Linked DNA regions of Homo sapiens: region 2 is linked to region 1. Evidence: fine-mapped expression QTL. A gene starts in region 1. The other region holds a variant in brackets. All regions are shown on one strand. Distances are from middle to middle.

Evidence for each region. PIP is the estimated chance that this variant, and not a neighbour inherited with it, causes the effect. A credible set is the group of variants that fine-mapping cannot tell apart.
Region 2: its variant is the best candidate, but not a certain one, in a credible set for the expression of CTSV in iPS cells (PhLiPS, PIP 0.68).

Annotation. Positions count from the first base shown.
Region 1 is chr9:97,036,391-97,041,773 of GRCh38, forward strand. CTSV (cathepsin V) reads right to left here and starts at 2,752. Exons shown (of 8, transcript NM_001333.4): 1 at 2,681-2,752; 2 at 1,528-1,663; 3 at 1,103-1,225; 4 at 862-1,008; 5 at 133-357. The coding sequence starts at 1,653. RefSeq lists a silencer at 2,787-3,096.
Region 2 is chr9:97,284,026-97,289,408 of GRCh38, forward strand. It overlaps SUGT1P4-STRA6LP-CCDC180 (SUGT1P4-STRA6LP-CCDC180 readthrough), which reads left to right. Exons shown (of 45, transcript NR_036529.1): 9 at 3,635-3,710. It also overlaps the pseudogene SUGT1P4-STRA6LP. Among named protein-coding and RNA genes, the nearest start is that of CCDC180, 21 kb to the right of the region's middle. The variant T/C (reference allele first, on the strand shown) is at 2,847.

The DNA of each region.
Region 1 (5,383 bases):
CAATACTCACGGTTTGCAGATGTAGATTCTACCATATAAAATGTGAATTCTGAAAAAAGTATCTGTTATCTCTGAAAGTGTTCCACTTTCCAAAAGCAGAGCACGAATGACAAGATAAGGAGCTCCATTTACCACTGCTACATATGGATAGGATTCCTCAGAGTCCAGGCCTCCGTTCTCCTTGACATACTGGAAGGCCCTAGCCATGAAGCCACCATTGCAGCCCTGATTGCCTTGAGGACGCGAACAGTCCACCAGATTCTGCTCGCTCAGTGAGACAAGTTTCCCAGTTTTCCGGAACATCTGTCCTTCAAGAGCACCAGTCGCACTAAAAGCCCAACAAGAACCACACTGTTTCTAAAAAGGGAGAAAAAAAAAGCTGTAAATTTACAAGACCAATACAAATACAGTACCCCATAATTGAATTACCTTAATATTCTTTAAAAAAAAAAAAAACCCATCGCCACACTTTGGGAGGCCGAGGCGGGCAGATCACTTGAGGAGAGGAGTTTGAAATCCGCCTGGCCAACATGGTGAAACCCTGTCGCTACTAAAAATACACAAAAATTAGCTGGGCATGGTGGTGAGCACTTGCAATCCCAGCTACTCGGGAGGTGGAGGCAGGAGAATCTCTTGAACCCAGGAGGCAGAGGTTGCAGTGAGACGAGATCACGCCATTGCAATCCAGCCTGGGCAACAAGAGCTAAACTCCGTCTCAAACAAGCAAACAAAAAAAACACCAAAAACCAAAAATACAAAAAACCCATCACCATATGTTGTGCCACCATCTACCACAGCAATGACACCAATTCCTTCTTGGCTTTCCTGTGGAGACAGGGTCTGAATCTGACGCTGTCTCACCTGATTCTTCACTGGCGTCACGTAGCCTTTCTTTCTCCAATCCACAGATTTGGGAAGATCAAGAAACAGAGGCTCACGGAACACTTTCCCCTTCCTGAATTTCTGGTTTCGAAAGCAACCCATCATCTGCCTGAATTCTTCATTGGTCTTCAAGGAGAAGTAAATAAAATGTTAAAAGCAAGACTATTTTGGTGAAGAACTGAGAAGCAGCACAGAGTTCAGCAATCCTTGCCACACTCACCATGTCACCAAAAGCATTCATGGCCATTGTGAAGCCATGTTTCCCTTGGCTGTATTCCCCATTGTGCAGTTCAATCATTTTCATATTCTTTTCCCACACTGCTCTCCTCCATCCTTCTTCATTCTAGAGGCAAACATATAGCTGGTGGACTTTATGTCTACTTACCCAACCCATGTTCACCAAGCCGATTTGCGGGCAGAAATGGAAGAGAAACCATGGCCAGGGATGGGTTGATACTTCTCTGGGAGCTGTTCTCCAAGCCAAGACACAATGGAGATATATGCCCATATTGCACCTATAATGGGTGCTGTTAGGTTATTGCCTGGTAAGGTCTGGTGTCTAGAAGCTACTCTCTGGCTATCAACTCCCAACAGCGAGGACCATTCTCTCCAGAGTCCCTCTGGACAGTTTCAGATGTTACCAACCGCGCCATATAATCTTCTGTGTGTTGCCTTCCACTGGTACCACTTTGTATCCAAATTTTGGTCAAATTTTGGAACAGCGGAGGCTATTCCCAAGCAAAAGGCAGCCAGGACGAGCGAAAGATTCATGTTTCAAAACCTAGAAAGAGAAAAGAAATGAGTATCTGATTAGACCAATCCTAAAAAGCCATCTTACAGCCCCCGTGGAATAGAAATATTTCAATTATTCTCCCTAGCATTTCCCCAAGGACTGTGGAAGAGGCTGAAACAGGCCAAGTGGAGGTATTTGATGGGCCCACCAAAATTAAAAGCAGCCTGCAGAGTTGGAGGCGTTGAAACAGCATATGCGATAATTTAGGGTATGAGAAGGGTGTGAAAGATACCTGACGGGTGAGAAGCTTAAGGCAACAACTAGAAAACTAGGAAAGAGTTGGTCCAGGTTTTGCACCAATTGTACTGAGGTCATCCAGGCAAAACCTCACTAATGAAGACGTACCATCCCAAGTAGATGCAAGCGGATCCCCAAGGAACACCACCTCACACCTTCTTGGCTGATACACAGCAGGAGATGAGCTATGTCTTCCAACCTCTCCTTTTGGAATAAAACCTTTCGGGAATCCCTTTCCAGGAGACACTGGGAAGGAGAGCACCCACTATTCCCGCCGTCCCACACTTGGGTCTGTGCTACTCGCTCCCCTAAACCGGGGCAGGGTCACAAGGCCGCGCCGCTGGAAGCCAGGGGCCCCAGGGCCAGGGCCCGGACCGAGGCAGGCAGCTCCCGGAGCTCCGGGCGGGCCAGGACCGGGGCCGCACCGCCTGCTCTCGCCCTCTGCACGCGCCGCCGCGCCCCGAGAATGTTTGCGGCGGTGCAGGGAGCGGGGGCTCCGCGGCCAGGCTGGGGGCATGAAGCCGCCCGGTCCGGTCCGGCTTCAGCCCACAGGATGACTGACCTGCCCCGCCCGGGCCCTCCCAGTGGTGCCGGCGCCTCCCTGGGGTCTCCAACCGCCCTCCCCCGTTCCCCACCTCGAGGCTGGCAGAGCTCCGGGCAGAAGCTCTCACTCCCAGAAGCGCCCGCCTCCTCTCAGTGTCCCTAAAGGGGGGTTCCCTCCTCCAGTCCCCCTTCGCCCTGTCCCTCGGTCTGGTCGGGGGCGCTCACCAGCAGCCGTCGCAGCTGCGCAGGCACCCTCAGCAAACAAGCCTCTGAGATTACAGACGTCCGCGGTCTGGTGCAGGTTCGCCCGCCTCGGGATTTAAGTTTCCAGGCGGCCTTCCCCGCCCCCACCGCCTTCCCGCGCTGCGATTGGCTGTGCCGGCCACTGGGCGGGGCCCCGGGCGCTTAGAGCCCGCGCGTGACGCAGCCCAGTCCCAACCCGTCTCAGGTCTGGGCGCGCCTACCTCAATACACCCTGGCTGCGGGAAGCTGGGCCGGGCGCCCGGGGGCTGCGCGGAGGAGGGGGAGGCGCCTCCCTCAAGGGCTCAGATCTACTGACTATCCCGACTTACTGCGCTGAGCGGGTGGTTTACAGCGAGCTCTGTGTGGTATTTCAGTCCCTACTTTAACTTAGTCCTAGAGTTTTTGGTGAAAATCTGCAGGGCCGGGAGCCAGGGTACTCTCGTTCAGTGGCTCCTGTTTAGTCCACGGCAAAGGTGGGACGGAGTGGAAGAACGCACAGCCCCCAGCAGAAGCATTACCTTCCACTTAAGGGTGGGTGCATCAGGGCTTTAGAAGAATCTGGTAAGGAAAGGCACTCCCAAAACACGGGATGGATGGTCGAGACCGGACACCAGGAGGGACGGGACTAGCTGATAGGGTGTCCAGAGACCGCGGAGCGTTTTGTGGTGCGTCCTTCCCAGTCTGTTGCATTCAGGAATTCTTCCTTCTCCCATGTCTTTCAATACCAAAAAAAAAAAAAAAAAAAAAAAAAAGAGTTACAGAAATATTTGGTTAATAAAAAAGAGAAAAGCGTTGAGAATGGTGAAATAAATTGCTTTAAAAATTTTTCTTTTGTAGAAATGGAGTTTGGCTAAGTTTCCTTAGGCTGCTCTTGAATTCCTGGCCTCAAGCGATCCTCCCCTCTCAGCCTCCCAAAAGTGGTGGGATTACAGGCGTGAGCCACTACGCCCAGTCTGAGAGTGGTGGAAATTGCTTTTACTTACCTACTCTCTGCTTATGGGTTACAACGTCTCTTCCTCAGTATTCAAAGTGTGCTTCTTTTGAGATTTAATAAATTTACTTTAAAAATGTTTAATACCGGCCGGGCGCGGTGGCTTACACCTGTAATCCCAGCACTTTGGGAGGCCGAGGCGGGCGGATCACGAGGTCATGATATCGAGACCATCCTGGCCAACATGGTGAAACCCTGTCTCTACTAAAAATGCAAAAATTAGCTGGGCGTGGTGGCGGGCGCCTGTAGTCCCAGCTACTCAGGAGGCTGAGGCAGGAGAATTGCTTGAACCCGAGAGGCGGAGGTTGCAGTGAGCTGAGATCGTGCCACTGCACTCCAGACTGGTGACAGAGCGAAACTCTGTCTCAAAAAATAAAAATAAAAATAAAAATATATAATATCAGGGTTGAGGTGATGCAGTTTGAGGAACTGCTCTTTATGGAGAAATATATGTAGCTAAAGATTTAAGGAAATCATTAATAATTCAGAAACGTTTCTAATTCTTTTTAAAGTTATATAAAAAAATCCATTATAAAAAATATGTTTTAGAAAATAAACGTCCCTTGTGCCCTCTCCATAACCCTTTTCTAGGCATATCTTTTTTTGTTTTTACAAAAATGAAGTTATAATGCATATTGATTAATAAACTCTTAAAGATTAAATTGAATAATATCCACAGTTTTTACTTGTTAATTTGAAAATTTGTGAAATCAAGTTTAGCCTAAAGCTGCCTCCCCATGTGATTTAAGTTTGGCCTAAAGGTTTCTCTGTACATAGCGAATTGTAATCTAAATGGAGGTGTAAACAGACTGTAGCCTGCTCTTGTGCCTATCCCCGAATTTCTGTAAATCAAAGAGGTTCAGTTGTTCAAACCATGTTCAAATAAGGCAAACATGGAGCTGTATCCAATCCTGCAGTTTCTGTGCCTCACTTGCCCTTTTCTGTCTATAAATCTTCCCCCATGTGGCTGCACTGGAGTCTCTCTGAGCCTACTCTGGCACTGGAGGCTGCCAGATTCACGAATTGTTTTTTGCTCAATTAAATTCTCTTAAATTTAATTTGGCTATGGATTTTCTTTTAACAAATTAAAAACAATTAAACTGACAACTTTTCAGAAGCACCATCAGGCAAATACATCTTTTTAAAAATCAATTTATTAATAATTATATGTCCTTCCTTTAAATAAATAGCAGCTTTTCCCTCTCAAATACAACTAGGGGCCAAAGCTGTCAGGTGGTTATATAAAAAATACAAAAGTATATTGTATTGCAGGCCAAGGTAGGTGGATCTCCTGAGCCTGGGAGTTTGAGACCAGCCTGGGCAACATGGCGAAATCACACCTCTACCAAAAATACAAAACAAACAAACAAAAATTAGCCAGGCATGGTGATGCATGCCTGTAGTCCCAACTACTTGGGAGACTGAGGTTGTAGTGAGCGGAGCAGAGCATGCGCCACTGCACTCCAACCTGGGTGACAGAGCGAGATGCCGTCCCAAAAAAAAAAAAAAAAAAAAAAAAGCATCTTGTACTTGTACTGCAAATTTGCCGTCTCAAAAAAAAAAAAAAAGCATCTTGTACTGCAAATAGCTGTTTTTTTTCTTTTTTAAAAATTAATCATTGTGTTGAACACAATCATCATTCACATGTGGAAATAAATGAAGACCACCACCTAAGAACAAACAGAGGCCATATA
Region 2 (5,383 bases), 250 kb after region 1:
AGAGTGCTATGATTACAGATGTGAGCTACTGCACCTGGCCTTGAAACACCTTTATGGAGACATAACCCACATTCCATACATTCATCCATTTAAGTGTACCATTCAATGGTTTTTAGTATTTTCTCAAGATTGTGCAACCATTTAGAACATTTTTCATCACCTCCCCAAAACATCATGACCCATTTCCCTCCAACCTTTCCTGTCCTAAACAACTATGAATCTATTTTCTATCCTTATGGATTTGCCTATTCCAGCTCTATCATAGAAATGGAATAATGTGATAATGTCATCTCTTTTTCAAATTTATTTTTTAAACTGACTTCTAAAATTGTATGCATTTATTCTGTAAAACATAATGTTTTGAAGTATATATCATTTTAAAATGGTTAAATCTAGCTAATTGACAAATATATTACCTCAAATAGTTACAATTTTTGTGATGGAACACTTAACATTCATTCAGCATTTTTGTAGAATATAATATATCATTATGAACTATAGTCACCATGTTGTACAATAGGTCTCTTGAACTTATTCCTTCTATTTACAATACGTCACCCTTTGTGACAGGCTTCTTTCATGTAGCAAGGTTCATCCATATCACAGCATGTGTCCAAATTTTTAAATTATTTTTTATTCCTTTTTATTGTCAATTACTGTTCCATTCTATGAATATACATTTTATTTATTCATTCATCAGTTGATAAAAATTTGGGTTGCTGTAACTTTTTGACTATTACAAATAAGACTGCTAGGAACATTCATGTACAAGTATTATATATTTTTTTTTTTTTACATATTTTGGGTATATATCTAGGAGTGGAATAGCCGGTTAAACACATGAAAACTCTATGTTTAACCTTTTGGAGAACTGCTAGACTGTTTTCAAAAGCAGCTGTATCACTGTTTAGTCTCACCAGCATTGTGGAAATTCCAATTTCTCCACATCCTTGTCAACACTTATTATTATCCATCTTTTTTGTTTATAGCCATCTAGTGGAGATGCAGTGGAATCTCACTATTGTTTTTATTTTCATTTCTTTAGTGGCTAATAATGTTTGGTATCTTTACATGTACTTTTACACGTACTGGCCATTTGTATATATTCTTTTGAGAAATGTCTATTCAGATTCTTTGATGATTTAAAAATTGCATTATTTATTTATTGAGCTGTAAGTGTGCTTAATAATTTGTATACAAATCCCTTATGAGATACATGATTTGAAAATGTTTTCTCCCATTTTGTGGGTTACTTTTTCACTTTTCTTGATGATATCTTTTGAAACACAAATGTTTCCAATTTCGATGAAGCCAAACATATCTGTTTTTTCTTATGTCACTTGTGCTTTTGGTGTCATATCTAAGAAATCATTGTCTAACCCAAGGTCACAGGGATTTTTCTCATATTTTCTTCTAAGACTTTTTTAGTTTTAGCTCTTACATTTAGGCCTTTGATCCATTTTGAGCTCATTTTTATGTATGGTTTGAGGTAGGAGTCTAATTTCATTGTTTTGCATGTGAATATCAAGTTGTTCCAGCACCATTTGTCAAAAAACACATTTTTGCCCCATTGAATTGTCTTGTCATCTGTGTTGATAATAAATTGACCATAAGTATGAGGGTTTATTTTGGATTCTCAATTCTATTCCATTGATCTATTTGTCTGTCCTTATGTCAGTATCACAGTGCCTTCATTACTGTAACTTTGTAGTAAGTTTGAAATTAGAAACAGCAAGTCCTGTAATTTTCTTTTTCTTTTACAGAATTTTATTGCCTATTCTTGGTTCCTTCAATTTTATATGAATATTAGGATTAGCTGGTCAATTAATGCTAAGATGGCATTTGAATTCTGATAGGGATTGAGTTGAATCTATAGATCCATTTGTGTAGTATTGCTGTGTTAACAATGAATATCCTATATGTGAACATGGGAAGTCTTCCCAGTAATTTATGTCTTCTTTAATTTTTTTCAAAATCTTTTGTGGTTTTCAGTGTATGAGTTCTACATTCTTTTGCTAAATTTAATATTATTATTTTTGATACTATTGTAAATGCAATCATTTTCTTATTTCATTTTCAGATTGTTCATTGCTTGTGTATAGAAATACAATTGACTTTTATATATTTCTTTTGTGTTCTATAAACCTTACTGTACTCATTTATTAGTTCTAATAGTTTTTTTGTATATTTCCTGCTTTTTCTATATATGAGATCATGGCATTTGTGAATAGAGTTTTATTTTTTCCTTTCCAATCTGGATGCATTTTATATTCTTTTTCTTGCCTAATTGCACTGGCTCAAACCTCTAGTACAATTTTGGCTAGAGGAGAGTAGATATGTTTTTTTGTTGTTGTTGTTGTTCTTGAGGTTAGGGGGAAAGCATTCAGTCTTTTACTGCTAAGTATGATGTTAGCTGTGGGTTTTTAGCAGATGCTCTTTATCAGGCTAAGGAAGTTATTTTGTATTCCTAATAGGTTGAGTAGTGTTTTGTTTTGTTTTGTTTTGTTTTTAATTGACACATAAAAATTGTACATATTTATTAGATACAATGTGATGTTTAGATATGTATATACATTGACTGATGATTAAATGAGTAAACCCATCCCCTCAGACATTTATCATTTATTTATGGTGAGAACATTCGAAATCCTGTCTTCTAGCTATTTTGAAATATACAACACATTATTGTTAACTATAGTTTCTGTACTGTGCAACAGAACACCAGATGTTGAATGTTTTTAATTGTAAAGAGATGTTGGATTTTGTCAAATACTTTTTTTGCACCTATTGATAATCAACTTCTACACAAGTTTTTTTTTTTTTTTTGAGACGGAGTCTCGCTCTGT[T/C]GCCCAGGCCGGACTGCGGACTGCAGTGGCGCAATCTCGGCTCACTGCAAGCTCCGCTTCCCAGGTTCACGCCATCCTCCTGCCTCAGCCTCCCGAGTAGCTGGGACTACAGGCGCCCGCCACCGCGCCCGGCTAATTTTTTGTATTTTTAGTAGAGACGGGGTTTCACCTTGTTAGCCAGGATGGTCTCGATCTCCTGACCTCATGATCCACCCGCCTCGGCCTCCCAAAGTGCTGGGATTACAGGCGTGAGCCACCGTGCCCGGCCTCTACACAAGTTTTTAAACCAACAAATCATCCTACTTCCCTGTTTCTACATCCCTCTCTCATGAACGCACACAATCTCTCTAAAAGCAAATTAGATTCTCAATATCAAAACTTGCTGAAGGGTGGGTGAGTGAATAGCCAAGACATCTTGATCCCAGCTATCTTTGTACCCGGTTGAGGTATAACCAACATCCCTCCCAAAAAAGTGGCAATTAGAGGTCAAATATGTTTTTCATGCACAGAGGCTATGTATGATATGTGGGAAATACTCCATAACTTTTCTTCCTTTCTTCACTGTAGAGCGAAAATATTAGTACAAAATGAGAGGAGTATGCAGGAACTATACTAAGCGTGTGTGCAGCTAAAATAAAACAGAAAATGAGCAAAAGTTTACTTACACAAGAAATGTGTTAAAGTCTACTTGATTTGCTTAGAACTTTCTGGTGCAGGATTCCGCATTTTTAAAAATTCTATTTCATGTTTATTTTTCAAGGCTTCTCATATCACTTTTCATATTTCAGGAGTCTGGGTGGCGACCATTTTGCCCGCGTATCTCACGTGTGTGAGCTATCTGTTCCACATTTTGGTCTGTTACAGGTAAGAGTACTCTCAGAGTCATTTGTTTGTCTTTCACCAGGAATATGTATGACAAGCTTTCCTCAGAATCTCCAAATAGTGCCTGCAGTGGGCCTAGGAAGTGAATGCAAGGTCCAGGACTAACCACATCTTTTAGTAGGAAGAAGAAAAGCATTATTGATTTGAACTTCTACAATGAGCTAACATTATGCTTAGAGTCTTCACTTGAATTTCACAACAACCCTGAGGGATAAGTACTTTCATCCCTATTTTTACAGTTGAGAAAGCTGAAAATCAACCAGATTAAATAACTTGCCCAAGCAATTAGCAGATGATCAAGTCTTTCTGACCCCAGAGACCTTGTTATTTCTTGTACACTCAGACACCTCTATTGGGTATCAGACCTGCCTTGCTCTACAGGGCTAGTAACACTGGGTCCCCAGCAGGTGAATCTGGCTCAAGGGAACATCAGTGAATATTGAATCAAGGGGACAAAGGACATCCATCTCAAGAAAAGCAGTATAGGAAGAGGGAATGGCTTTAAACATGGTGTGAGCATTTGCACGCAGATATCAGTTGGGTTTTAGGTACCTGCTGGTCACCTCTCTCTCTCTCTCTCTCTCACACACACACACACACACACACATGCATGCACACACGCACGCACACACACACAGTCTTACAGGAAGCCCAGGCCAATATCCAGCTCTGAAGAGCATCCTGCCTTTACATCCTCCTCTTATGCCTGCCCAAAGGGTGAGTCTCTTGCAGAGGACACCCACAAGAAGACTCTCCTGGCATGAAGGGTCCCAGCTCTCCACCAGCCCTGCCTTGCTCCCTTTCTCTACTTTCTTCTCATTGGACCCCACAGGTGGTCTGGATACTGCTACTACCTCTGCCCTGCCTGATGTGTGCACATGTCTCCTCCTTCCCTCATTAGTCTGCATGTGGCTGGGAGATATTCACTGAGACATTTGAGCACAACCAGGGACAAGCACGATGCAAAGGAAGCTGCATGGACATGGATGTGTGGCCAAGGGCACAGGGAGAGGAGGCCTGCATTCCCGTCCAGGCTGCCCTTGCCCCTACCTGTCACCCAGGAGTGATGATGCCTGCCCTGCTTCCTTATCAGAACCATGGGGCAGAGGACACCAAGGATGAGAAACACACTACAAACTGTAGAGCACTAGCATTGTGTCAGCATTGTAGTTTTTATTATTCCAACCTACATACAGGTGCGTTAAAAAATATTACAAAAAATGTTTAGCGTAAAGTAAGTCTTCCTCCTACTCAAACCCCTAATTTTTTGCCCTAAGATAACCACTGTTAACTGTTTTCTGTGCATACTTCCAGAAATTTTCCATGCACAATGCAAATATGAGTGTGTGCTCTGTGTGTGTTGTATGTATTGGTGGTACCACACTCAACTCCATGCTGCCAAACAGAAACAAAATGAAATTCACATGTTCAATTTTGAAAGTTCTAGTAGCCTCTGTTTAAAAACTAAAAATAGACAGGTTACATTAGTCTTAATAATGTTTTATTTAATCCAATATATCTCAAATATTATCATTTCAACATGTAATATATACAAAAATTATTATTGAGATATTTACATTCTGTATTTGTTCCAAGTCTTTCCAATTTAGTGGTCATGAAAAGTACAAAACAGGCTGAAAACTGCTGGAGAGAGA